4 linked regions of the Homo sapiens genome follow. Changing the gene in region 1 together with any one later gene gives a genetic interaction. Each region holds a gene or a part of one and is shown in the gene's direction. Other genes may lie near its edges.

Region 1 (7,000 bases):
TTCATTTAGATGTCATTTCAGAATCACCTTCTCTGATTTTCCTACTTGAGATTGCTTTGTAGTTGTAAGACATTTTCAAATGTGATAGTTGCTATTAAAATGTTAAATGGAACAGTGGGATGTGGAGGAGGTTCTGAGGAGCAGCAGCATTAGCCACTAGAGGAGATTTGATGGTGTAAAGAAGCTAGTCACGTGAATCTGGGATGGAATAGGAAGTACAAAGGCCCATAAGTGGGAATGAGCCTGCTTTTTTTTTTTTTTTTTTGAGACGGAGTCTCGCCCTCTCCAGTGGCGTGATCTCTGCTCACTGCAACCTCTGCCTCCCGGGTTCAAGCGATTTTCCTGTCTCAGCCTCCCTTTCCTGTAGCTGGGACTACAGGCTTGCACCACCGAGCTAATTTTTATATTGTTAGTGAAGATGGGGTTTTACCATGTTGCACAGGTTGTCTCCAACTCCTGACCTCAAGTGATGCACCCACCTCAGCCACCATGCCAAGGCTGAATGAGCCTACTTTTAAAAGGATAGTAAGAAGGCTGGAGCACAGGGAGTAAAGAGGGGAGTGGTATGAGTTAAACAGGGAGGGGTAGGCAAGGGCCACATCCTTCAGCACCTTGGAGGCTAGAAAAAGGAGTGAGATTTTATTGTGTGATGGGAAACCATTGGAATCTTTTAAACAGGGAAATAAGCAAGTTTTTTAAAACTTGCTTAATTTTTACTTCCTTAAAATCCTTCAGTGCTTACACATTGCCTTCAGTGTAAAATCCAAACTACTTAGCCAGTCCTTTGAAATTTAACCTTATCTTCCCTCTTCAGCTGCATCTCTAAAGGCTTTAGCCACATAGAGCCTCTTACAGTTTCCAGTGCTTGGACTACCCTCCCTCTTACCCTTATTTCACTGCCTTGTCCCTTAGGGAGTCAGTTTTGTATCACCTCGTTAAGGAAGCCATGACTGACAGGGCCCTGCTCAGGGCTGAGTGTCCCTTTGTGTTCTTTCTTGGGCCTGTCAGTTCTTAACCATAATTACCTCTTGTTTGTCCTTTAATCTGCAAATTATTTTAGGGCAGGTGCATTCTGTCTTGGTTATCCTGGTATTTGATGCTTACCTCAGAGGAGGTGCCTAAGCTTTATATAATACTTACATTAATACTCAAATTTTATAGTATGCTTTTGAAAAGTTATACCCTCTTAGCTCAGTTCCAGGGTAGAAGTCACAAAATAAGAAGTGCTCACTCCTGTGAGTTTTCTTTCTTTTTTCTTTTTTTTTTTTTTTTTTTGAGACTGGCTCACCTGTTGCTCAGGCTGGAGTTCAATAGCATGAACATGTCTCACTGCAACCTCTGCCTCCTGGGGTCAAGCGATCCTCCCACCTCAGCCTCCCAAGTAGCTGGGACTACAGGTGTGTGCCACCATGCCTGGCTAATTTTTGTATTTTTGTAGACGGGGTTTCACCATGTTGCCCAGGCTGGTCTCAAACTCCTGGGCTCAAGTGATCCGCCCACCTCAGCCTCCCAAAGTGCTGGGATTACAGACATGAGCCACCACGCCCGGCCAAGTTTCTTTCTTCTGATAGTAGATCTAATGAATGGTAATCAATTTACATTTTTCTAAAACTGATTTTTAAAAATTACACAAATAATACATGAGTACATAATCTTTACAAAATGAAACTTTGTAAGAAACTCTGACCACTACCCACAATCCTGGCTCCTCTTCCCATGTTCCTCTTTGTTCACATTTTTAAATGATACTTGTGAAATTACTGTGGTTTATCATAATGTCTCCTGACTTTGTCTAAAACAATTCATGTTACCTTGTAATTACAGATTTTGAATTTTTTGTTAAATTTGTGATGCCCTATACTATGGTAGCCACTAGCCAAATGTGACCATTGACCACCTCACATGCGGCTAGTCTAAATTGAGATGTGCTGTAAATATAAGATACACAGTGGGTTTCAAAGACTTAGTACCAGAAAAAAGAATGTAAAAGATCTCATGAATAATTTTTATATCGATTACACATTCACCTAATATTTCAGATATATTGTTAGGATCAATTGTTTTTTTCCTGTTTCTTTTCTTAATGTGGCTACCAGAAAATAACAAAATTATGGCTTACGTTATATTTCTATTGGCCAGCGCTGATTTAAATAAGATACATAGCACTAAGTTGTTTTGCTTTCATATGCAAATGTAACTACTTGTTCTTTGATTCTTTTTTTTTTTTAAGGACTTTATTTAGTAGCATATACAAACTTGCTTTTTTTTTTTTTTTTTTTTGAGATGAAGTCTCACTCTGTCATCCAGGCTGGAGTGCAGTGGTGCGATCTTGGCTCACTGCAACCTCCACCTCCATGTCCCAGCGATTCTCCTGCCTCAGTGCCACAGCTTCCCAAGTAACTAGGATTATAGGCGCCCACCACCACGCCTGGCTAATTTTTCTATCTTTTAGTAGAGAAAGGGTTTCACCATGTTGGGCAGCCTGATCTGGAACTCCTGACCTGAAGTGATCAGTCCGTCTCAGCCTCCCAAAGTGCTGTGATTACAGGCATGAGCCACCACGCCTGGCCCTTTGATTCTTTGTGTCTAGAGTTTATGTTACTTAAAAACATTTGTTAATTTCAGTAAGTTTTTCTATTAAGCAAGTTCTAGGTGATGTAGCAGAGGCAAAAAGAAATAAAATGCATTTTCTCTCCTATAAGAGCTTACGGTCTAATGGCACTTTAGGACATGCAGAGAGAAATAAAGCACAGTCTGCCACCTGTAGGAGCTTATAGTCTAGTGGCAGGGAATAGGTAAATATTCCATAGGTCCAGAAGGCTGTACATTAGGAATGAAGAAACCACAAAATTCAGGAAGGTTCTTATGAACCATTCATTCATTGAAGAGTTGTTTTTTTTTCTTTAAATGTCTACTATGTACCAGGACCAGAGAACAGTTCTTTTTTTTCTTTTCTATTTTTTGGAGACAGGGGTCTGGTTTTGTCACCGAGGCTGGAGTGCAGTGACACAATCTTGGCTCACTGTAGCCTCCCAGGCTCAAGCGATCCTCCCACCTCAGCCTCCTGAGTAGCTGGGGACTACAGGTGTGTGTCTCTATACCTGCTCATTTTTCTATTTCTTTTGTAGAGACAGGGTTTCATCATGTTGCTCAGGCTGGTCTCAAACTCCTGAGCTCAAGCAGTCTGCCCACCTTGGACTCCCAAAGCACTGGGATTACAGGCATGAGCTACCATGCCCGACCAGTATCAGTTCTTTTATGGCATTTATTAGCTGTAAATGCTATTGATCCTATATGTAATCAATTAGGATTGGACTTTGTGGTTTGAATAATCAAAAAAAAAAAAAAAAAAAAAAAAAAAGTCAGGCCGGGCGTGGTGGCTCACGCCGATAATCCCAGCACTTTGGGAGACCGAGGCGGATGGATCATGAGGTCAGTAAATCGAAACCATCCTGGCTAACATGGTGCAACCCCGTCTCTACTAAAAATACAAAAAATTAGCCGGGCGTGGTGGCACGTGCCTGTAGTCCCAGCTACTCGGGAGGCTGAGGCAGGAGAATCACTTGAAGCTGCGAGGCGGAGGTTGCAGTGAGCCGAGATCACACCACTGCGCTCCAGCCTGGGCGACAGAGCGAGACTCCGTCTCAAAAGAAAAAAAAAAGAAAAAGGGCCGGGTGCGGTGGCTCACGCCTGTAATCTCAGCACTTTGGGAGGCTGAGGCGGGCGGATTACCTGAGGTCAGGAGTTCGAGCCAGCCTGGCCAACATGGTGAAACCCCGTCTCTACTAAAAATACAAAAATTAGCTGGGTGTGGTGGCACACGCCTGTAATCCTAGCTACTTGGGAGGCTGAGGCAGGAGAATTGCTTGAGCCCGGGTGGCGGAGGTTGCAGTGAGCCAAGATCGTGCCACTAACTGCACTTCACCCTGGCCGACAGAGCGAGACTCTGTATCAGAAAAAGAAAAAAATTCACTCTTTTTCTTTTACCACTATTTGAGATAATAAGTGGGGAAAATGTATGAACATTTTACAGTGCTATATAGAAATAAATTGTGACATATATGAAATATATGCTATTATTTATAAGTAACTGTCTTACTACACCCTAAGTTGTTTTGTCAGAAGTGATGGACTTTGCTAATCACTCACACATAACCCACTGTGAATCCTCTAGGTAGAGTTAATCATTCCCTGCTTTGGGTGTACATGATACTTGCTTTTGATTATTTATTTATTTATTTATTTATTTATTTATTTATTTATTTATTGAGACTGAGTCTCGCTCTGTCGCCCAGGCTGGAGTACAGTGGCGCGATCTCGACTCACTGCAATCTCCGCCTCCCAGATTCAAGCGATTCTCCTGCCTCAGCCTCCTGAGCAGCTGGGACTACAGGCGCCCGCCACCACACCCAGCTGATTTTTGTGTTTTCAGCAGAGATGGGGTTTCACCATGTTAGCCGGGATGGTTTAGATCTACTGACCTCATGATCCGCCTGCCTTAGCCTCCCAAAATGCTCGTATTACAGGCGTGAGCCACCATGCCCGGCCGCTTTTGATTATTTAAGTGCATTCCTCTCCTCTCCCCAGCAACTATTCTGAGTTCTTTGAAGCAGAGGATCTTGTTTTACTTGCCTTTTGAATTTATTAAATTATTTGCGTCTGTACCCATCCATTCTTTCTATGTTTATGAAAGAGTTACCCTCCTGTCCAAGGATTGTCTTTTTACTTATATCTGGTTCCAAGAAGAGGAGTCACATCTCAAGAATTGGTTGCTTAGGTCTTTCCATTATAAGGGAGAAACAAAACAAAGCCCTCTTGATCTCATACAGTTCTTTAGTTATCACCAACTCTACTTCTCTTCATTTCATGATCAAGCTTTGGAAAGAACCCGCTATTCTCAGTATTCACATTTCATTAGATTTTCAGCCCCTTGCAATCTGGCTTCTCTCTTTACTGCTACAGGAAAATTTTAAAAGTCCAAAAGGCATACAAATACCTAAACATAAGAACTAAAACTATGAAACTCTTAGAAGTGAACATAGAGGGGGCCGGGCATGGTGGCTCACACCTATAATCCCAGCACTTTGGGAGGCCAAGATGGGTGGATCACCTGAGGTCAGGAGTTCCAGACTAGCCTGACCAACATGGAGAAACCCTGTCTCTACTAAAAATATACAAAATTAGCCAGGCGTGGTGGTACATGCTTGTAATCGCAGCTACTCAGGAGGCTGAGGCAGGAGAATCGCTTGAACCCAGGAGGCGGAGGTTGCGGTGAGCTGAGATCGCGCCATTGCACTCCAGCCTGGGCAACAAGAGTGAAACTCTGTCTCAAAAAGTAAATAAATAAATAAAAATAAGGGAACATAGAGGGAAAACATTATGACACTGGATTTGGCAATGATTTCTTTGATATGACACAAAGCACAGGCAGCAAAATAAACAGATAAATTGGAATTCATCAAAATTAAAAACTTTGTGCATCAAAGGGCAGTATCAATAGAGTGAAAAGGCAACCCATGGAACTGGAGAAAATATTTGCAAATCATATGTCTGATAAGGAGTTTAATATCTAGAATATATTAAGAACTCCTACAGCTTAACAACAAATATAACCTGATGAAAAACAGAAAAAGAACTTGAATAGACATTTCTCCAAAGAAGATATACAAATGGACAAATAAGCACATGAGAAGATGCTCACAATTACTAATCATTAGGGAGATGCAAATCAAAACCACAGGATACTGTTTCACACCCATTATGATAGCTATTAATAAAAAAACAGTTGGGGCTGGGCATGTTGGCTGATGCCTGTAATCCCAGCACTTTGGGAGGCTGAGGCAGGCGGATCACGAGGTCAGGAGATTGAGACCATCCTGGCCAACATGGTAAAACCCCATCTCTACTAAAATACAAAAAATTAGCCAGGCATGGTGGTGCATGCCTGTAGTACCAGCTACTTGAGAGGCTGAGGCAGGAGAATTGCTTGAACCCGGGAGACAGAGGTTGCAGTGAGTTGAGATCATGCCACTGCACTCCAGCCTGGTGACAGAGCAAGACTCTGTCTCAAAAAAAACCAAAAAACAAAAAAAATCCCACAAAAAAAAAACACAGTTGGGCATGGTGACTCATGCCTACAATCCCAGCACTTTGGGAGGTCAAAGCAGGCAGATCGCTTGAGCCCAGGAGATTGAGACCAGCCTGGGCAACGTGGTGAAACCCTGTCTCTACAAAAAATACAAAAAATTAGCTGGGTGTGGTGACATGCACCTGTGGTGCCAGCTACTCAGGAGGCTGAGGTGGGAGGATCTCCTGAGGCTGGGAGGTTGAGGCTGCAGTGAGTTATGGGTGCACCACTGCACAGTAACCTGGGCAACAGGGTTAGACCCTGTCGCCAAAAGGGGAAAATAAAATAATAATAAAAAAACACCCAGAAAATAACGTGTGTTGGTGAAGATGTGGAGAAATTGGAACCCTTGTCCACTGCAGGTGGGAGTGTACAATGGTACAGCCACTGTGGAAAAGGGTATTAGCGTTCCACCAAAAATTTAGTTTTTATGTGCTTCAGAAGGGAGGAAGTGAATGCTAATTGGTCCATAGGCAGTCATGGGTGGGCCTGGAAAAAGCACCCTAAGTTCTCGCTGTGGTCCGTGTAACTGGCAGCCAGGCTTCCAGGCTTCAAGCTGTTCCTGGCTTGAAGGTGGGTCTTCACTGGGGACCCACCCCTTTCCTCCCAGGAGCCTACTTCCTGCTGCCATCAACCTGCCACCCACTACACCGAGGCTGTTCGTGCCGAGGGGCGCCTGCAGGCCCATATTGAGCTGCCCTCAGCCTACCGCTTGGCCTGCCCAAAGTCCAGAGGGAGATGAGGCAGCAGGGGGCTGGTGTGTCAGTGCCGTCCTGAGCACATGCACACGCGGCCTGGTCCTGACAACACCTGGGCTCCCCCACAACTTTGCTCCGAAATTGGTGTGGGTGCCGGGAGCGGGGAGAGGCCAGG
Region 2 (7,469 bases), on another chromosome or scaffold:
GAAACCCCATCTCTACTAAAAATACACAAATTAGCCGGGCATGTGGGCAGGCACCTGTAATCCCAGCTACTCAGGAGGCTGAGGCAGGAGAATGGCTCGAGCCTGGGAGGCAGAGGGTGCAGTGAGCCGAGATTGCACCACTGCATTCCAGCCTGGGCGACTGAGCGGGACTCTACCTCAAAAGAAAGAAAGAGAGAGAAAGAGAGAGAGAGAGAGAGAAAGAAAAAGAAAGAGAAAGAAAGAAAGAGAGAGAGAGAGAGAAAGAACTCCAAGAACAGTTTTTATATTTTATTTTCACATTGGAAATCAGTCAGATTTGTTTCAGCCTCAAAGAGCATGCTTATGTAAAATTAAATGACTGCTGGCAGCGAGCTGCACTTTTTCCTTCCAAACAGGAAAAGCGTTAAAAAAAAAAAAAAAAAAAAAAAGAGGCTAGGCGTGGTGGCTCACGCCTGTAATCCCAGCACTTTGGGAGGCTGAGGCGGGTGGATCACAAGGTCAGGAGATCGAGACCATCCTGGCTAACATGGTGAAACCCCATCTCTACTAAAAAAATACAAAAAAAATTAGCCGGGCGTGGTGGCGGACACCTGTAGTCCCAGCCACTCAGGAGACTGAGGCAGGAGAATAGCGTGAACCCAGGAGACGGAGCTTGCAGTAAGCCAAGATCGCGTCACTGCACTCCAGCCTGGGCGACTGAAAAAGACTCCGTCTCAAAAAAAAGAAAAGAAAAGAAAAAGAAAATAGGGATGATGTTGGCAACTACCGCATAGAGTTCTCATGAGGGATAAATTCATAAAATGGTACCTGACATCATGGCAAAAGCTATATACAGGAATACCTCATTTTATTGTGCTTCACTTTATTATGCTCCAAAGATATTGCATTTTTTACACATTGAAGCTTTGTGGCAACCCTACATACAGTGAGTCTATTAGTGCAATTTTTCCAACAGCATGTGTTTGCTTCATGTCTCTATGTCACATTTTGGTAATCCTTGCAATATTTCAAACTTTTTCATTATTATTGTATCTGTTACGGTGATCCGTGATCAGTGATCTTTGAGGTACTATTGTAATTGTTTGGGGGTGCAACGAACTGTGCCTATATAAGAAGACAAACTTAATCAATAAATGTTGTGTGTGTTCTGACTGTTCTGCCAATATGCTGTTCTCCTCTCTCTCTCCCTCTCCTCAGGCCTCCCTATTCCCTAAGACACAACAATATTGAAACTAAGCCAATTAACAACCCTACAATGACCTCTAAGTATTCAAGTGACAAAAAGAGCCCCACATCTCTCACTTTAAATCAAAACGTAGAAATGATTAAGCTTAGTGAGAAAGGAATGTTGAAAGCTGAGACAGACCAAAACCTAGGCCCCTTGCACCAAGCAATTAGCCAAGTTGTAAATACGAAGGAAAAGTTCTGTTTTTTTGAGACAGGTCTCAGTCTGTTGCCCAGGTTGGAGTGCAGTGCCCTAATCTTGGCTCACTGCACCCTCCGCCTCCTGGGCTCAGGTGATCCTCCCACCCCAGCCTCCCAAGTAGCTGGCACCACAGGCCTGCGCCACCACACCTGGCTAATTTTTGTAGTTTTTGTAGAGATGAGGTCTCGCTATGTTGCCCAGGCTGGTCTCAAACTCCTGGACTCAGGCAATCCTCCCACCTTGGCCTCCCAAAGTGCTGGCATTACAGGCGTGAGCCACTGCACTCGGCCTTAAATTTGAGACAGAGTGTTACTCTGTCACCCAGGCTGGAGTGTAATGGCACGATACTGGCTCACTGCAACCTCTGCCTGTCTGACTCAAGTGATCCTCCCACCTCAGCCTCCTGAGCAGCTGAGGCCACAGATGCATGCCACCACACCCTGTTAATTTTTCTGGGCTTTTTTGTTTGTTTGGTTTGGTTTGGTAGAGACAGGGTTTTGCCATGTTGCCCAAACTGGTCTTGAACTCCCTGACTCAAGCGATCTGCCCACCTTGGCCTCCCAAAGAGCTGGGATTACAGGTGTAAGCTATCAGGCCTGGCCTGGAAAAGTTCCTTCCCGGAAAAGTTCCTGAAGAAAATTACAAGTGCTACTTCAGGGAACACACAAATGATAGGAAGGTGAAACAGCCTTATTGCTGATATGGAGAAACTTTTAGTGTGCTGAATAGAAGATCAAACCAGCCATAACTTCCCTTAAGCCAAAGCCTCACCCATAGCAAGGTTACTCTCTTTAATTATATGAAAGCTGAGACAGGTGAGAAAGCTGCAGAAGTTTGAAGCCAGCAGAAGTTGGTTCATGAGGTTTAAGGAGAGAAGCCATCTCCATAAGATAAAAGTGCTAGACAAGGCTAGAGGTAGTGGCTCACACAAGTAATCCCAGCACTTTAGGAGGCCAAAGCAGGTGGATCACTTGAGGCCAGGAGTTTGAGACCAGCCTGGCCAACATAGTGAAACCCTGTCTCTACTAAAAATACAAAAGTTAGCTGGGTGTGGCAGTGCACACCTGTAATCCTAGCTATTTGGGAGGCTGAGGCATGAGAATTGCTTGAGCCTGGGTGACCAAGGTTGCAGTGAGCCATGATTGTGCCACTGCATTCCAACCTGGGCGACACAGCGAGACTCTGTCTCAAAAAAATAAGTAAAATAAAATAAAACTATGTTTTTCATGTGACATGTTATTCATGTGACTGCCCACTCTAGCCCACAATTGCCATAAGGTATCATTACACAGTAAGAGTGATTGGCAGATCTCCACATCAATAGCAGATGGGTTCCCTTCATACTTGTAAAGCTCTCCATGATTCTGCAAGCTTCCTATAATTCATATTTTCTTATACCTGGGTGTTCTATTTGAGAGACTAAATATATGAACAGCAGCCAGACCATATATAAAAACAGAACTCTGACCCACAATCTACAGCAACCTGCTGGGGAAACCAACCCCCTTATCTATAATAAACAGCACAGGAAGCAAGCTTGCTACAAGTCAGACTTGTATAAAGTCAAACTGCTATCTCTAATGATGATCCTGGAGGCCAAACAACAACCCCTGTAGCAATGGGCCCAAATGCCTTAACTAGTATCCTACAGCTTCCTTAACAGCTTCCAACATAGGTCCAACCAAAGAAAGCCAAACACCCACCCCTAAACCAATCACATACCGCATCCTACTACTAGTTAGCCCAGGTACAGCTTCTCCATGCCAACAGCCTCCAATCAAAGAATACCTTGACGGCTTCCCTTTTTTATAAAGCTTTCCTACTCCTCTGCCTGCCTTTGAGTCCTGTCAAATGCAAGTGATGATGGCTGACTCCCTTGCTATAGTAAGCTCTGAATAAATAGCCTATGCTTTTCTCATTTGGTTATTTATTTCCACATATTGGATCTAGTAATTCATGAAATTCCATGAAGAACTAATTTCCAAAACTTTTTTTTTTTTAGACACGGTCTTTCTCTGTTGCCCAGACTGGAGTGCAGTGGCACTATCATGGCTCACAACAGCCTGGACCTCCCAAGCTCGAGAGATTGATTGCCCCCTCCCCCCACTCCCCGCCCCCAACCCTTCAGCCTCTAGGGTAGCTGGGACTACAGGCGCACGCAACTACATCTGGCTAGTTGTGTGTGGGTGCGTGTGTGTAGACAGAGATCTCACAATGTTGCCCCAACCGGTCTCGAACTCCTGGCCTCAAGCGATCCTCCTGCCTTGGCCTCCCAAAGTGCTGACGTTACAAGCATGAGCCACCGCACCTGCCTACAAACGTTTTTAAAAGATACTGGTGTCGGCCAGGCGTGGTGGCTCACACCTGTAATCCCAGCACTTTGGGAGGCTGAGGCGGGCGGATCACGAGGTCGGGAGATCGAGACCATCCTGGCTAACACGATGAAACCCCGTCTCTACTAAAAATAAAAAAATAAAAAAATAAAAAAAAATTAGCCGGGCGTGGTGGCTGGCGCCTGTAGTCCCAGCTACTAGGGAGGCTGAGGCAGGAGAATGGCGTGAACCCGGGAGGCGGAGCTTGCAGTGAGCCGAGATCGCGCCACTGCACTCCAGCCTGGGCAACAGAGCGAGACTCTGTCTCAAAAAAAAAAAAAAAAAGATACTGGTGTTATTTCTAAAACATCCAAAAAGTTCACGTGGAGCATCCTTTTTACTTCATCTTAATAACCTAAATCAATATGCTATAGGTCTCACATTTCCGGAGAAGATCCTCTTCCTGGAATGGACGCGGCCTTCTGCCCACAAGAGCGGTGGCCCTAGTGCCCGAACGCGTGGGCAGATCGCAAACTGCTGCGTCTCCCGCAGCCCCCGCGCGCACCAAGTGGGAACTACAATTCCCGGCGGCCCCGGCGGACTGCGGGCCGCCGGGTCAGACAGCCGACCTCGGCCATAAGCGCCTGCGCAGTCGCGGGGCCGCCGGCCGTGCTGTTCCCGCCAATTCCTGTGGTAATCCTTACCGTGGCGAGTTCCGCGCTCAATGGAGACGTTTGACCCCACCGAGCTGCCCGAGCTGCTTAAACTTTATTACCGGAGGCTCTTTCCCTACTCTCAGTACTATCGCTGGCTCAACTACGGTGGAGGTGATGGAGGCGAGGAATGGGTTCGGGAGCGGAGTGTGAGGAGGTTGGAGGCGGGGTGTCCTTAGAATGACAATATGAAGCGCCTTCTGTGCACCAGGCTTTGTGCCGCGCGCCTTCATTTGCTCTCTCGAGCCCGCCCCACCACTTCATAGGTGTAAATGGGCCGAGAGAGGATATAATAAGCCAGCCTGCGGCCACGCTGTAAAAAAAAAAAAAAAAAAAAAAAAAACAGAGCCGCCGCTCCTACCTCTGCGTGGTCAGGCTCACATTAGGTGCCCCGTTTACCTGCAGCGGTGCCCAGGGGGTTACTGGGGCGTAGCGTGAAGCTGCTGAGGCATGGTTTGCATCAGGAGCGGAAGAGCCTCTCTCAGAGGAAGAGAAATACTTTCTTCCTTGCAGCTGAATTTATTAGTGCGAATCGAGGAGAGAGGGGTGGCATTACATATTTAAAATATTTATGCATCTGTTTCATCTTTTGTACCGTTCCCTAGCAAATACGGAATGGTAACTGCTTTCAAATTAGGGACTAGGTCATGTGGATTTTGTTTTGTTTTTCTTTTACATCTACCACGGTGTTGAGCATAGGGGGCTCATTAAAAACATCTTCTCGGGCCGAGTGCCGTGGCTTACGCCTATAATCCCAGCACTTTGGAAAGCCGAGGAGGACGGATTACCTGAGGTCAGGAATTCGAGACCAGCCTGGCCAACATGGTGAAACCCCGTTTCTACAAAAAATACAAAAATTATCTGGGCATGGTGGGTCGCATGCCTGTAGTCCCAGCTACAGCCTCGGGAGGCTGAGGTGGTAGGATCCCTTGAACCCGGGAGGCGGAGGTTGCAGTGAGCCTTTATCGAGCCACTGCACTCCAGTCTGGGCGACAGAGCAGGAAGCAAGCAAGATTCCCTCACCGAAAAAAAAAACTTCTCATTGGCTAAAATTATAATGCCCTGAGCCAAATAAAGTAGCAAATTAACTTTAAAATGTACATTTATTTTGCAGTGATAAAGAATTACTTTCAACACCGTGAATTTTCATTCACATTGAAAGATGATATTTACATTCGCTACCAATCCTTCAACAACCAGAGTGATCTGGAAAAGGAGATGCAGAAAATGAATCCATACAAGATTGATATAGGCGCAGTATATTCTCACAGAGTAAGAAATCTTTTTTTAATATATTTTGTTGTTTTATTTTGTAAACCAAGAATGGGTTGATTCCTCTTGCGTTTTGAGATTAAATTTTTAGAGTTTATTCTAGATGAAAAGCCACTTTTTAATTGTTTGGCAAGTGATTAATCCTTTTTTGTTCTTTGACGTTCTGCATTACTGATGAAATCATTTGGGAGTGAATTGGTTGCATTTTTACTAGGACAAAAAAAATTGAGTATCTAGCTACTAGGAAGAGGAAGTCGACATGATTTAGGAAAGGGAAATAATTAGCCGGGCGTGGTGGTACGCGCCTGTAATCCCAGCTACTGAGGAGGCTGAGGCAGGAGAATCGCTTGAACCCGGGAGGTGGAGGTTGCAGTGAGCCAAGATCGCGCCATTGCACTCCAGTCTGGGCGACAGAGCGAGACTTGGCCTCAAAAAAAAAAAAAAAGAGGGAAATAAAAGAGAATTACATTCTCTTCCACCATGGAAGTTATTCTTTTTTTCTTTTAATTGTTTATTTTTATTGAGGTCAAATATACATATAAAACTTATTATCTTTACCACGTTTAAGTGTACAGTTCAGTCATAATAAACATTTATATTCTTTTTCCTTCATACCCCTGGAGTTATTCTTGATTCCTCTCTTTCTCACATTCCCATACCCATTCTATTAGGAAATCCCTTTGGCTCTACCATAAGTGTATCTAAAATCCAGCCACTACTACCAGTGCTACCAACATTATCATCTCATCTGAATTACTGTAAAAACCTCCTAACAGTTTGCCTTTGTAGAATCTAGAGTCCATTGTCAATACAGAAGCTAGAGTAATCCTTTTAAAACAACTCAGAATCTGTGATTCCTCTGCTGAAAACATTCTCTGGTGGCTGCTCATTTCACTGACTAAAAGTCCTTCTCTCCCCCTCATTCATTCCTGCCACACTGACCCTTGCTCAAGCTGTTTCCACTGCCTAAAACCCATTTCTATACTTGGTTCATCCCCTCACCTCCTTCAAATCTTTGCTCAAATAGCACCTTCTCAGTGAGGTCTACTAAAACCTGCCACTCCTCCCACCCCCTGCCACTGGTATATTCTAAGTACCCTAGAAGAGTGCCTGGCAAGAGACAGTACACTATAAATATTTGTTGAGTGAATGAACAAACCAAAATTGCCCTTCTTCCCCTTCTCAAATATATACACTGGTGGGTGGAGGGAATACATACATAGCATAATAGCTTTTATGTGGAGTTTTTCATGTTATATAACTTGTTACTTGTATCAATCCTCATTCTTTTTACAAAGGAGGAAACAGGCCCAGAGAACTTGAATAGTTTGCACAAGCTCACACACAATTTCTAAATGATAGAGCTGGCACTTAAACCCAGGGTTTCTGACTCTAAATCCCAGACCCGTCTCTCATCATCAAAGTAAGGGGAGAAGAGGTAATAAAAGGCAGGCAGAAAAAAATACTTTGGAGTTGTTTTACTTCCCCTTTATAGGTTGAGAATAAAACTGAAAATGAACTTCTAAGAAGGGTTAGGGTGCCACTCTCTACTTCCTTCTCCTTAATTTCTAAAGGGAGAAAACGTCTCATTTTTTTCTTGGGCCAAGACAGAAGCATCTATAGACCTTTATTTACTTTTTGTGTTTTGTTTTGTGATTTTTGTCAGTTATGTATGCACATGGTTTACAAAATCAAGTACTTCTATTCGGCTTTTAAAAAATCTGCTACCAGGCTGGGCCGGTGGTT
Region 3 (7,032 bases), on another chromosome or scaffold:
TTTTTATTCTAATGAAGGCGCTTTCTTGTGTGGGTAGTTCAGTTTGGTGTTCCTTCAGGGGACGGCAATTGTTGGAGGATTCCATATGGCCACATGGACTAATATTTTTTGATATCATGAAAATGTAATGAATGTGATATATAATGAAAGCTTTCTGAAAAATATTAATGTAAAATGAATTTTTTAATTGCTTAACCATTTCTTTGTATTTTTATAGCACTTAAAAACTATTTCTGCCCAGTTATGGCAATGAAATGGGAAACCACAACTACAGTTCACAAACAGGCATGAAAAACCAACACACGCCCCATTAGGGATTACACTAAGCTCTTTATTTTTTATGCATTCAAAAGAGAGTCCAATACACATGTGTCAAATAATGAGCACTGTCAATTTTTTTTTTCTAGGAGAGTTCAAAAACATTTATTCTAAATTTGTTGTTTTTGAACCATAGAGAATAAAGAATTTTAGTATTCAAATAAGATAGTTTATCTTTCCTTTTCACTTTATATATTTGAATATGCAGTGATTTTTATCAGAGTAATATAACTACACACATTAAGTAGGATTAAAGAGGTTATAAATATTTGGTGATTTATAGATTCAGTGTTTGTTTTGATAAATCCATGTGACTGGTTAAATATTTCTGTGGCTTTTTATTATGTTTTTATTTGGCATGCATCATTAACATTTTGAAATTTAAAATAGGTTTATATGGTAATGCTTCCAAATTTACACAAATTCTAAATGATAAATTTTGGATTTAGGCCATTGCTTCAATTTTTTTTATTCTTTGTCAAATTAAGGTCACACTAGACACAAAGTGGAAGAAGCTCTTATTAATGAAGAAGCAATTTTGAACCTTATGGAAAATAGTCAGACTTTTCAGCCTTTGACCCAAAGACTGAGTGAGTCACCTGTTTTCAGTAAGTAACAGTGCTACCATAAATATTCAGTATTGTAATTCAGAGAAAATGTGTGTTGTGAAGAGGCATTTTTTTTTTTATTGACTTGAAGAGGTAAATGTTGCATGTTCAGTAAACACTCTACTGAATATGAAAATGAAACCTTGCATTAAATCAAGTAGCTTTGCTTTTTTTCTATACAGCTTAAAAAAATTTGTGAAAGAAAATAGTTTTTTTAACTGTACTTTGATTCACGGAAAACCGTATTACTTAAGAAGGAAAATGCATTTATTTTGAATTAATATTTTGCAAAGTTCAGTACATTACTAAAACACCATAAGTGGTTCTTTCTTGGTGAGTATCACAAATTTCACCGGAGGAAACACGGGTGGCTAGGGCCATGGTCCCAGCCTCCTCATCTCACTGGCCAGGGCTGCACTCAACCAGTCCTTCAGTGGCCTCCCCTTGAGTGGCATCTCAGGCTTCCTGCAGCCACTGCCAGCCTTCCCTGGCAAGGCCTCCCAACTAGGGGCTGACAGTGCTGAGCTGTACCCACGGCCAAGACCCTGTGCAGTCCCAGGCAGCCCTGGCTGGAGCACACAACAATGTTATTTTAATAATGTCCCTAAATTACTCTAATGCAGGTGGTCCAAGGATCAACTTTGATAGGAGAGCTACCTCAACACCTGAGCCTTTGTACCAACTGTATTCTTTCAGCCTGTGCCAGTATCTATGATGTTGTTATTTTATTCTGAGTGATCTGAATTGTTGGATTATTAAGAAAACAGGCCGGGCGTGGTGGCTCACGCCTGTAATCCCAGCACTTTGGGAGGCCGAGGCAGGCAGATCACGAGGTCAGGAGATCGAGACCATCCTGGCTAACACGGTGAAACCCCATCTCTGCTAAAAATACAAAAAATTAACCAGGTGTGGTGACGGGCACCTGTAGTCCCAGCTACTCGGGAGGCTGAGGCAGGAGAATGGCATGAACCCAGGAGGCAGAGCTTGCAGTGAGCCTAGATCACGCCACTGCACTCCAACTCCAGCCTGGGTGAGAGAGCAAGACTCCGTGTCAAAAAAAAAAAAGAAAACTTATTTGTTGGTGATTATTGTACTTGTTTTATAGTGGACAGTAGTCCTGATGAGGCTCTGGTACATCTTCTTGCTGGTTTGGAAAGTGATGGATATCGGGGGGAAAGAAATAGGATGCCATCACCATGTCGCTCCTTTGGAAATAATAAATATCCACAAAATAGTGATGATGAAGAAAATGAACCACAGATTGAAAAAGAGGAAATGGAGCTTAGTTTGGTGATGTCCCAGAGATGGGACAGCAATATTGAAGAACATTGTGCCAAAAAGAGGTAATTTTTTAGTTATTGCAGTTGTTTTATTAACTTTTATCATTATTGTCCTTCAATCAGAAATTATTTATTACTATTGTTCATGATATAAAATACCTTATGAACTAAATTGATGTTTTAAAATTCCCCTTTAGTGATCTGTTTTTCATATGGCGTATACTCCATATTCCAAGCAAAATAAAGTTTTGCTACATTTTAAAAGATTAACCTAACTTTTAGAAGTTATCCATTTATATACACAGTATTAACATATGTGAGTGATAAATGGAGCAAAATTGAAGTGCCTTCTTATCTTAGAACTTAAGAAAAAGAATGCCCTGTGATAGTTGAACTGTTGGGTATCAGAACAACAATGTATAGAGTCAGCCTGAAGACAGGGTATGGTTTTGGGCTCTGATTAGACTAAGGGAACTAAGGTTAAAAACAAATAAATAAAAGACTAAGAAGCAAACACTGGTGTTGTGGTTTGTTTCTCAAAATAAATGAATAAGTTGGTGTTGTGGTTTTCTAAATCAGTCTCTGTGAACTTGATTGGTTTGAGTCTGCCCTTTAGTTATATGCTCTGTGTATAGAAAAATCTAGGCCTATGAGCCTGAAAGACTGAGTATGCCTCTCCTTTAAACTTCTATAGGCTAGATTAGAACTTTTTTAGTCTGTATTTGAAATTTCCAACCCAAAGCCATCACTGAAAGGTGAAACAGGTTAATCCATAAATTCAGTGTTTACATGTATATGATGAAAGTTTTTATTTTTCTACTTAATAAATCAGATATAGAAATCTCCAGATGTGATGTTAAATTCTTTCCTCTAACATTGTCACTGCTGTAATAATAGGCATAGTCAATCCTATGATTAAATTTATGTTTGTATGTTCAGTGGCTGAACCAATTTGGTGAAAACCATGCCCAATTTAACCTTGGGAAAACAAACCTAAACATTTTGTACACATATATTAGAGAGAGATTGAATAGTAGAAGCATGGTGTCTAGAAAAGGGTTTAGTTAATTCTGCTCTTTATATTGGATATTATATTCTGTGCTGAGTACCATATTTTAAGAATACTGAAAAAGGAAAGGGAAAGAAGAGGAAGAAAACTAGAAGGATCTGTGAGCATTGTCACTTTTGAAGAACTTTTGAATGGAGAATGTTTGATCTAATTAGAATTACAAGATGAATGAGAAATGCCTTTATGTATTTTAAAGATTATCATGTGGAAAATGACATCAACCTGCTCTGTATAGCTACAGAGAACAAAATAGGAATCATGTATGGAAGTTGAAAGAGTTTGTGTATTACAAGAAGACAACTATGAATAATTAAAGCCATTAACAGTGGAAAGATTGCCCTGTGAGACAGCAAGCCCCTTATACAGATTATGTAAAAACAGAGATTGTGTCAGGTTCGTTAAAAATGAGGTTTTCGCATTGGGTAGAAAGTTGGACTGGACCTCTGATACCTCTTTCAGCTCTTAAGGGAGTGATTTTTATGATAAATTGTGATTTGGAAAGGCTTAATGGAAAAACAGTTCCAGTATAATAAGTATAATAAAATAATAATAATTTCAAATTGTTGAGATTAGTGAAAGAAAAAATTGGGTATGGATAGGAAAAAAGTTTGCCCATTCAATTAAAAGGGAAAACATCAAGTTAATACCAATATGAGATGAAACTTAAAGACTGGACTTCACTGTCCATCTGAATTTCTCAGTAACCCTTTGTAGTTATTGTCAGGTTGACTGAACACCTTTACTACTTCCTATTACCCTCTCTCTTCTTCAGCATTTTCTCTTCAGCCCTGACCTCAATGCCCCTTCACTCATCTTTTTATTCTTGTTTCTTCCAATTCAGAATGCAGGAATTGTGGTGTATTTTAGCTCACATGAAAGGGATTATGAAGTCTAATTATAATAACTCTTTGTAAGTTACTATAGTAAGACATGTTAATAAAGCAAAGTAAATATGCTTTTCTAGAAGTTACAATTTTCAGATTTTTTGTATTGTTTTACTATAGAGTAACTTAGATACATTATTATAGTTAACTTAGATACATTATTATAGAGTTAACTTAGATGCATTATTTGCATCTGAGATGGTCTTTACTAATGATCATGCTCACCAGTGAATTTTAATGTTCTCCAGATCACTGTGCAGAAATACCCACAGAAGTTCAACTGAAGATGATGACTCATCTTCAGGAGAAGAAATGGAATGGAGTGATAACAGTTTGCTTCTAGCCAGTCTTTCTATACCTCAGTTAGATGGAACTGCAGATGAAAATAGTGGTAAGTAAACAAGTCTACTGTGAGAAATTGGTTATTCACGATCTAAAAATGTATTTGATTTTGAGGCTAGGCGCTCTGGCTCACACCTGTAATCCCAGCATTCTGGGAGTCCAAGGTGAGAGGATCACTTGAATTCAGGAGTTCGAGACCAGCCTAGGCAACGTAGTGGGACCCCCGTCTCTAAAAAACTAAAAAAATTAGCCCAGCATAGTGATACATGCCTGTAGTCCCAGCTACTCAGGAGGCTGAGGTGGGAGGCTTACTTGAGCCCAAGGGTTTGAGGCTGCAGTGAGCTGTGATTGCTCCATGGCATTCCAGCCTAGGCAACAGAACAAGATTCTGCCTCCAAAAAAAATAATAAATAAATAAATATGATTTTGAAACTTTAATCATACTTTCTATTGATTTTGAAACTGTAATCATACTTTCTATATAGTTGGCTAAGGGAGGCTATAGTGATGTTTCGTCCTTCAGGATTTTTTTCTTTTGAAAGAATTAGATACATGATTTGCTTCTCATTTCTAAAAGGATATAACATTTGTTGACCACTGAATTCAAGCTTTGAAAACTTTAATGTTTGTTGTGCAAGTAGAATAATAAACTGAAAAATATGCTCAGTTTATTTGAAGTGATAATGTAAAGCATATTATTTTATGAACATTTTTAAAGTGACAGTATTTTTCCCTTATGCCCCAAAGGAACTAAATAGTAATATAATCTATTTCTGATCAATGGAATATTTGTTTAAAATGATGACTAATAATTGTAACTAACTATATTTAGATTGAGTCATTAATGATAAGCATTACCTTTTTGTTAAGATAACCAAACTTAATTTGATGTAATTTTTTCATAGTGATAGCATTAATATCTTGGTGTGGGAAAATGTCTTAAAAATTAAAAGAGTAAAATGAAATAAACTGTTTTTCCCTCCTCATTTCAGACAATCCATTGAACAATGAAAATTCTAGAACCCACTCTTCTGTAATTGCAACAAGCAAGCTTTCAGTTAAACCCTCCATCTTTCACAAAGATGCTGCTACATTAGAACCCTCATCTTCTGCTAAGATTACCTTTCAGTGTAAACACACAAGTGCCCTTTCTTCCCATGTTTTGAACAAGGAAGATTTAATTGAAGACCTTTCACAGACAAACAAAAATACAGAAAAAGGTCTAGATAACTCAGTCACTTCTTTTACAAACGAAAGCACTTATTCTATGAAATACCCTGGATCTTTAAGCAGTACTGTTCATTCAGAAAATTCTCATAAAGAGAATAGTAAGAAAGAGATCCTCCCAGTATCTTCCTGTGAAAGTAGTATTTTTGATTATGAAGAAGATATTCCATCTGTTACAAGACAAGTACCAAGTAGAAAATATACAAACATTAGAAAAATCGAAAAGGATTCCCCTTTTATACATATGCACCGTCACCCTAACGAGAATACATTGGGCAAAAATTCTTTCAACTTTTCTGACTTAAATCATTCAAAAAATAAAGTATCCTCTGAAGGAAATGAAAAAGGAAACAGCACAGCTCTGAGTAGTTTATTCCCTTCATCATTTACTGAAAATTGTGAATTACTGTCATGCTCAGGGGAGAATAGAACTATGGTGCATTCTCTTAATAGCACTGCTGATGAAAGTGGACTAAATAAACTTAAAATTAGGTATGAAGAATTTCAAGAACATAAAACAGAAAAGCCAAGCCTCAGCCAGCAAGCAGCACACTATATGTTTTTTCCCAGTGTTGTTCTTTCTAACTGTCTTACTAGACCACAGAAACTATCTCCTGTCACATATAAATTACAACCTGGCAATAAACCATCCCGGTTAAAATTGAATAAAAGGAAACTTGCAGGTCATCAGGAGACTTCTACCAAAAGTAGTGAGACTGGATCCACAAAAGATAATTTTATACAAAATAATCCTTGTAATAGTAATCCTGAGAAGGATAATGCATTGGCTAGTGATTTAACTAAAACCACTCGTGGAGCTTTTGAAAATAAAACACCCACAGATGGTTTTATAGACTGTCACTTTGGAGATGGAACGTTAGAAACTGAGCAGTCCTTTGGACTATATGGAAATAAATACACACTTAGAGCCAAACGCAAGGTAAATTATGAGACTGAAGACAGTGAGTCAAGTTTTGTAACTCACAACTCAAAAATTAGTCTACCTCATCCCATGGAAATTGGTGAAAGTTTAGATGGAACTCTCAAATCCCGAAAACGAAGAAAAATGTCTAAAAAGCTGCCCCCTGTCATCATAAAGTATATTATTATTAATAGATTTAGAGGGAGAAAAAATATGCTTGTGAAGCTAGGAAAAATAGACTCTAAAGAAAAACAAGTAATATTAACAGAAGAAAAAATGGAACTATATAAAAAGCTTGCACCTTTGAAGGACTTTTGGCCAAAAGTTCCCGACTCCCCTGCAACCAAATATCCCATTTATCCACTAACACCAAAGAAAAGTC
Region 4 (7,483 bases), on another chromosome or scaffold:
CGTCTTTCTTCCACAGTTAAGGGTGAGTGACAACATTTATGATATGGCAAGCATTGAGGAGTCAACATTTCAGTGGTTTTCTTTAAGCCAGAGAGATTTATTCATTCATGCATTAATCCCACAAATTATGTGGCTGATGATATGGCAATGAATGGCATACTTCCTACCCTCAAAGAACTCAGTGTAGTAACAGACAAATATTTAGATAATTTGAGTGTGGTCTAGAAAGACAGAAGTGAACTGGATTTTACAAGAATATTGAGTAAGGGTGCCCAGCCCAGCTTAAGGTGGGTAGGAAATGGGGAACAATGTCAGAGAAGCCTTCCTGGAGGAAGTTAACATTGGAATTGTTTTTTAAAGAACAGTAGTTTTACTGGCTGAGGAGGAAGAAGGACGGCTGCTGGGAGTGTTGGGGTGGGGGTGGCGGGGTGCGTGGGAGTGTTGGGCTGGGGGTGGCGGGGTGTGTGGGAGTGCTGGGGTGGGGGTGGCGGGGTGTGTGGGAGTGTTGGGGGTGGGGTTGGCAGGGTGTGTGGGAGTGCTGGGGTGGGGGTGGCGGGGTGAGTGGATGGTAGTGCTCAGGAAAGGGACAGCATCAACCATGGTATGGAGGGGATGTGGAATCAAGACTTGTGCCTGGCAGCACTATGTTTGAAATGCTAAATGGGCATCTAGAAATGTCACATAGGCATGCAGAGGTGTGTGTCTACAGTTCCAGGGTGAGGGCATAGCTGGAGATCTAAATTTAGCAGTCCCTGGTATATACATGGTATTACATGATATTTACTTAAGACTAAATGAGGTTGCTCGAAGAATGTGTAGTTACACAAGGGACCCCAGTACGGAGGCTGGGGAGACAGATCACCGTAATATTTATTTATTTATTTAGAGACAAGATCTTGTTCTGCCACCCAGGCTGGAGTGCAGTGGTGTGATGATGGCTCACTGCAGCCTCGACCTCCTGGGCTCAGGTAACCCAGGTAGCTGGGACTACAGTCACGTGCCACCACACCTGACTAATTTTTTTGTATTTTTTTGTAGAGACAAGGTCTCCTTTTGTTGCCCTGGCTAGTCTCAAAATCCTGGGCTCAAGTGATCCTCCCAACTCAGATTCCCAAAGTGTTGGGATTACAGGTGTGAGCTACTACTCCTGGCCACCACTCTAATATTTAGAGGGTAGTCTAGGAGAAGGAGCCAGCAAAAGAAACTACAAGGAATGGCTAGACAGGTGGATAGGTTAGGGGGGGTGACAAATAAAGTGTCAAGGGGAAAAAAAGAGTCTCAAAAAAGAGGGATTGATGGATGGTTTCAAATGCTGCTGGGAAATACAGAAAAATTAAAACAGAGAAGTGACCACTGTAGCAACATACAGATCATTAATGACCTTGACAGAGGCTATTTAAGTGCAGTGGTAAGGGCAGAGGACAGAGTGGAAGGTAGAGCCACGTGTGGAAGCACATGCCTATAGTCCCAGCTACTAGGGAGACAGAGGCAGGAGGATCACTTGAGCCCAGGAGTTTGAGGCTGCAGTGAGATATGATCATGCCACTGCACTCCAGCCTGGGTGACAGAGCTAGACTCTGTCTTTAAAAGAAAAAAAAGTTTTGTTTTTTTTTGTTTTTGAGAGGGAGTTTTGCTTTTTGTCGCCCAGGCTGGAGTGCAATGGCTTGATATCGGCTCACCACAATCTCCGCCTCCCTGGTTCAAGCGATTCTCCTGCCTCAGCCTCCCGAGTAGCTGGGATTACAGGCACGCACCACCACACAAGGCTATTTTTCTTGTATTTTTAGTAGAGATGGAGTTTCTCCATGTTGGTCAGGCTGGTCTTGAACTCCCAACCTCAGCTGATCCACCTGCCTTGGCCTCCCAAAGTATTGGGATTACAGGCGTGAGCCACCGTGCCTGGCAAAAATGTTTTTTTAAGTGGAAGATAGATATGGAAGTGAGATGGACAAGAGCAACCCTTGACTCTGGGCTAGCGGGTGTTCTGGCCTCTCCTCCTAATGGCCATTCTGATGAAAGGGAGGTGGCTTATGGTCCTCTGAAAGGGCTGACCAGGGCCCAAAAAGAGCCAGGTCGTTTACACCAGGGTGCCAGGGTGCACTGGCCCTTGATTATCAGACCCAAGTCAGCCCATTCCACAGGCATGCAGTACCCCCAAGGCTCCAAATAATGTTCTTAAAACAGCACCTGGCACAAAGTCGGTGCTATATACATTTTTGTTATAATTATCCCAGTTTCTAGGCAAGCTTTATTGGCTTCTAAGAACAAATCATTTATGTAAACCAAATCATTTTCAGGGTATGTAAAGTCTATATTCTCTTTTTCTGTCTTCCTTTCTCTCTCTCTCCTTCCTTCTGGGTTCTGGTTAAGATGGAGAGCTCTCCCTGGAGAGTCTGGGATTGAACCACCAAAGAAGGGCAGAGCAAGCAAAAAGGAAAATAAATGAAGGCATACCCAGAGAAATACATTTATGAAAAACACCAGCATTGAAGAAAATACAGCACGCAGTGCACTGAAGTTTTGTACCTGTTGTACAGGTAGCCAAAAGATGACACATAGAGGGTGGATTTTTAGTTTTGATTAATTCATTGGTAACGTGGGAAATATTCATGCAGAAACAGAGGAATGATCATGCAGTGGTGCAGTTGTTCCTTTGAAGGAATTTTGAACGTTGCATTACAGTTCAACTGTCCTGGAAATCAAAAATATGGTAGAAAGTGGAGATGGTGGGGAGGACGTGTAAATATCTTTAACTCCCCCTTCTTGGTTTCCAAACGCCTTTATCACTCCATTCAGCCTTAGGCCAAATTCTGGATGCTTTTACAGGTGTTTTTCACGTGTAAAATGTGCATATCTATCTCCTAGGAGTATCGTGGAGATGGAATGGGATATGTAAAGTGTGCTGTATATAGCAACTGCATCATTAGAGCATCTTTCAACAGAAGTGCACATCCCCTCATAGCTGATGACTGGCATTTCCTGTTCATTTTTTTCCTTCTACCTCTTAACCTTACTGACGATGCTTTCAATACAAATCTAATAATAACGGCAGCTAACATTTATCATGTGCTCAAATTAAGTCATTTCATCTCCCCAACAATCCTATCAGGTAGGACTGTCATCTTCATCTCCTGAGCCTTGGAATCATATTAGGCAGCCTGGCTTCAGAGCCCAGCACTTTTTGTGTTTTTGTTTTTGTTTTGACAGGATCGCATTCTGTCTCCCAGGCTGGAGTGCAGTGATGTGATCACATAGCTCACTGCAGCCTTGACCTACTGGGCTCAAGCAGTCCTCCTACTGCAGCCTTCTAGTAGCTGGGACTATAGGCACGCCATCATACCTGGCTAATTTAAAAAAAAAAATTTTTTTTGGAGAGATGGGTCTCCCTATGTTCTCCAGGCCGAACTCGGAACTCCTGGCCTCAAGCGATCCTCCCACCTCGGCTTCCCAAAGTGCTGGGACTACAGGCGTGAGCCACCGCGCCCGGCCCTGAGCCCAGCTCTTAAGCACGCAGTCCAACACGTTTAGCTGGAGAGACGCCGGGTCACTTCTTGGGCCATACCCTCTCATCACAAACTCAGGTTTCTCTTAGAAATCACTCTTAGTGTCCGCAGTGCCTAGGACTCCCGCCTTGGATCCTGGGGCCCACGAGAAGGTAATTTAATTCACCCAGATAGAACCAGCCCAATCGTGTCCCTCTGAACCCCGTGAACTTTCACCCCGGCTGAGCAGTAAGTCTGCACCGCTGTCCCTTTCTTTGTGGTCTCAGGGCTAATCCAAAGTGACAATTTCCTAAGAAGCAGTACGGGGTTTTTTGTTTGTTTGTTTTTTGTTTTTGAGACGGAGTCTTGCTCTGTCACCCAGGCTGGAGTGCAGTGGTGCGATCTCGGCTCACTGCAACCTCTGCCTCCCGGGTTCAAGCAATTCTCACACCTCAGCCTCCCAAGTAGCTAGGATTACAGGCGCACACCACCACGCCTGGCTAATTTTTGTATATTTTTAAGTAGAGACGGGGTTTCACCATGTTGGCCAGGCTGGTCTCGAACTCCTGACCTTGTGATCCGCCCGCCTCAGCCTCCCAAAGTGCTGGGATTACAGGCATGAGCCACCGTGCCCGGCCCAGGTATTCCTAGAAGACATAGGACCCCATGAATCCTTGCAGGAGAGCACGTAAACTGGACTCCTAAGCCCGCCCCAGAGCCCCGGCGCTAGTGCTCGAGGCTGGGACACTGCTAGGTGCACACAGCCGCGGCCTGGCGCAGGCGGTGCGGACAGAGGGTATGCCATGGCGAGACGCTGGCGCGGCGCAGGCCCTGCCGGCCGGGACACGGAGGGCGGGGCACAGGCGCAGCAGGAAGGGGGCGTGGCCAAGAGCCGCCCGGCCGCTCCCCCGCCCCTCCCCCTCCGCTCTCCGCCCCAGCCCGGCGGCTCCGCCCCCTAGGTGACGTCACTGGCCAGGCCAGCCGGCGCCATTTTGAAAGTGGAGTCGCCTGCCCCTGCCGCTGCCGCCGCCGCCGTCGCTGTCGTAGTCGCCGCCGCCGCTGCCGGAGAAAGAGCACGAGCGGGGAAGCCCCAGAGTGAAATCTAGCATCCTGCCGGCTGGTCTGCCCGCCCCTCCTTCCTTTTCCCCCCGGCCCCCGTCCCCTCCCCCCGCAGGTGCCATCCGCCGCCATCCGCCCTCTCTACCCCCCCATCCCCAGGTGAGGGGGGTGAGTTCAGGAAGCGGAGACCCCGAGGAACCCAGCAGGGTCACCATTTGCAGCGCAACATGGCAGGTAAAGGAGAAATCCCCCTCGCCCCCTGACAAGGCACCGCTTCCTTATTCCTCCCTCCATCACCCCCTAGCGACCGCCCGCGCCTCGCGCAGAGCCACAGGGCGCCCCTCGGGTTTGAGGGAGTAGGGTCCAGAGGGGTGGGGTGGGGGCGGGGAGGGCTCCCGGGAGGCAAGTGGTCACGGTGAGAGTCACTGGGCTTGGAGAACGGGGCTGGCGCCGTGGCGGGGGTGGGGGTGGGGTGTGCCGGCGAGCTTGGGGTGAGGCGTGGGTGGGGCGGGGTGGGGGTGCGTGCAGATTTGTCCCTCCCGCTCGGGAGCCTGGTGGATCTTCTCCCACCTCCCCACCTTGCCCCCCGCCTTTATTTTTTTTTCCTGCAGGTCTTCATTTAATTTCTATTTTTCCCCCTGCTGCAAGCCTTCTTGGGTGTATATACACATTTATTTTGCCTCGAGAAGGAAGAGCGCCTTATAAGTTAAAATACAGTGGGGGCATATGTGTATTTTTTCCCCACTGTAGATGCCAATATTTTTGAGACTGGAAGCCTAAATTTTTTGTTTCGAACCATTTCGTTTCCGTTTCTTCCCTTTTACCGCCGAAGAGTGCAAGGCCTTTCATGTACAGCAAGTTGCATGAAAATAATTTAAACTTTGCGTTTAGCATGTTAGCTTTTTTGCAGATGTCCTTTTCCCAAAAGGGTTTGGTAGAGTTAGTTAAAATAGTTGCGGAGTTCAGAGATATAAATAGCAAGGAGGAGAGAGATTTAGGTAGAAGCTTTGAAGGGGAGGGGAAAGGATGTAGAGAGAAAACCAGTTTGGAAATAAATTTAGCAAGGAATAGGGGTGATGGGGGAGAGAGAAGTAATGTAATTGCTTTGAGAATTCTTTTTGTACATGTTGGTATTGCTAAATCTTTTCCTTCATGTAGTAGAATCAGTTGCAGATTTAGATTCAGTTTCTTTCTCCCTAGAGCCCCAGGACATTTTCAATCATTTCGACCTCAGTACTTGCACGTGAAATAGAAACATTCCGAGATGAGACCAGTTTTCCGTGCTGTATTCATTATTTAGATAATTAAACCTTTTGAAAAAGTTAACATGTCGGATTGACTTACGGTTTGCTATAAACAAGTTGCTTGTTGGCCTTGTTGAAAAATGAAATGAGATTAAAATTGTTTTGCACGAGATGACATTAGCAAAATGAATTCTTTGCCAGGTCCTTTGGAGTCAAGGGATGAGGTGAAGGGAGGCAGAACAAGCTTCCTTTGACAGTCTCTTTAGCAGCATTCATTTCGGTTTCTTTTCCTCTCTGTCTGGAGCCAGTGATTTGCTGGTAATGAATGCAAAGAAATGGGTGTAGTGTTTGCTGTGTGTGCACTTTGGTGATAAGGTTCATATGAATCATTACTCCTTACCCAGGCAGTAATGTTCCCGAAGTTTTCTCTTCGTTCTATGTTTCATGGTAGTTTAACCTTATTAACTCTTCTGCAGGCTTTTTGTACACTTAAGAAAACTCTTTAACTCTTGGTATTTACTTTTTTTCTGGTAGGTCTTGCCTGAATGTAAGGCTTTTACTGTATTTGACAGGAAGTTTGTGAACAGATGTTTAATGACCACAGAACATGTGCCTTTAAATATTTCGTACCTGGAATCTTTTTTTTCTTTCTAATGCAGTACCAAGTATTGGGGACTAACCTCTTTCCAAACTGGTGCTCTTGGTGGTAGTTGTATGTGTGGGCAGAACTAGGCTGTTAGTATCATGCCAACCATGGATACCATCTTTGTGTTTACGAGAGTCAACATAAGCAGAACTCGGTTTTAATTGGTATGTTTTCTTTTTCCAGGAGCTGGAGGAGGGAATGATATTCAGTGGTGTTTTTCTCAGGTGAAAGGAGCAGTAGATGATGATGTAGCAGAAGGTAAGAAAGCGTTTAATGCAAAATTTGGATATATAATTTTTGCAGAAATGTTTCCTACTGGAGGATTTCCTTGAAGCCGAGACTGCTATAAATTCAAGATGATTTTGTTGTCCAAGAAATGTAAGAACAGTTTTAAAAGATACCTTTCTGAAAAACAGCCTTAAATTTCATTTGTTATTTACGCCTTGTTTTTATTATTTTTTCCTCTGAATTTACATGGAAGGAGCGGTAGATGATGAGACATATAAGATCCTCACATGAAAGCTCTGAGCTCCATATAAGGGTTTCTTTGTTATGTAAATTCCACATACAAATAAATGGTGATGCATTTTTATGTTTGTACATTGGTTTTAGATAAGTAAATTGAAATAGGTGCCATCAACATTTGGCTCAGAAACATTCTTAACGGCATCTTTGATTTTTATGGGAAGATTTTTTAACTACTTTTGAATTTGTCCACTTTGGGAGTGTGATGCTGCTTGGCATATTCTGTGAAGAGATGATAGCTCAGATTATTCATTTTGTTGTCTTTCTGGTATTTAGGTGGATAAGACAGTAACAATGCTATGCATATATCGCTTGTCTTTTAGGAATCGTATATTCTTGTGCAGGTAGAAACTGTGTTTGATCAGTTGAAGTACTTACGTCTAATTTTCTCCCCAAATTTATTTTCTAACGTGTTTCAGAAGTTTAAGTTTTGAAACTTCAAGGTTTTGCATTCATTTGAGATGGTCTTAGGCAGCGGAGGCATTTTCCACAAAGTTGTTGCATTGTTTCATTCCTGAGAAATGTTG

The links.
Region 2: changes in ATR (region 1) and PRIM1 are lethal when combined (synthetic lethality), as found in Homo sapiens cells (2 studies listed by BioGRID).
Region 3: changes in ATR (region 1) and REV3L impair growth when combined (synthetic growth defect), as found in Homo sapiens cells (one study listed by BioGRID).
Region 4: changes in ATR (region 1) and PPP2R2A are lethal when combined (synthetic lethality), as found in Homo sapiens cells (one study listed by BioGRID).

What each region holds. Positions count from the first base shown.
Region 1 is NC_000003.12:142,568,734-142,575,733, reverse strand, and holds part of ATR (serine/threonine-protein kinase ATR), read left to right. Parts: intron 1-7,000. UniProt on the Homo sapiens protein: Serine/threonine protein kinase which activates checkpoint signaling upon genotoxic stresses such as ionizing radiation (IR), ultraviolet light (UV), or DNA replication stalling, thereby acting as a DNA damage sensor.
Region 2 is NC_000012.12:56,749,292-56,756,760, reverse strand, and holds the start of PRIM1 (DNA primase small subunit), read left to right. Parts: upstream 1-4,437; 5' UTR 4,438-4,462; coding exon 4,463-4,565; intron 4,566-5,565; coding exon 5,566-5,723; intron 5,724-7,469. UniProt on the Homo sapiens protein: Catalytic subunit of the DNA primase complex and component of the DNA polymerase alpha complex (also known as the alpha DNA polymerase-primase complex - primosome/replisome) which play an essential role in the initiation of DNA synthesis.
Region 3 is NC_000006.12:111,375,219-111,382,250, reverse strand, and holds part of REV3L (DNA polymerase zeta catalytic subunit), read left to right. Parts: intron 1-806; coding exon 807-926; intron 927-2,031; coding exon 2,032-2,269; intron 2,270-4,407; coding exon 4,408-4,550; intron 4,551-5,493; coding exon 5,494-7,032. UniProt on the Homo sapiens protein: Catalytic subunit of the DNA polymerase zeta complex, an error-prone polymerase specialized in translesion DNA synthesis (TLS). Lacks an intrinsic 3'-5' exonuclease activity and thus has no proofreading function.
Region 4 is NC_000008.11:26,287,052-26,294,534, forward strand, and holds the start of PPP2R2A (serine/threonine-protein phosphatase 2A 55 kDa regulatory subunit B alpha isoform), read left to right. Parts: upstream 1-4,456; 5' UTR 4,457-4,768; coding exon 4,769-4,775; intron 4,776-6,164; exon of another isoform or gene 6,165-6,195; coding exon of another isoform or gene 6,196-6,232; intron 6,233-6,614; coding exon 6,615-6,689; exon of another isoform or gene 6,690-6,787; coding exon of another isoform or gene 6,788-6,809; intron 6,810-7,483. UniProt on the Homo sapiens protein: Substrate-recognition subunit of protein phosphatase 2A (PP2A) that plays a key role in cell cycle by controlling mitosis entry and exit. Involved in chromosome clustering during late mitosis by mediating dephosphorylation of MKI67.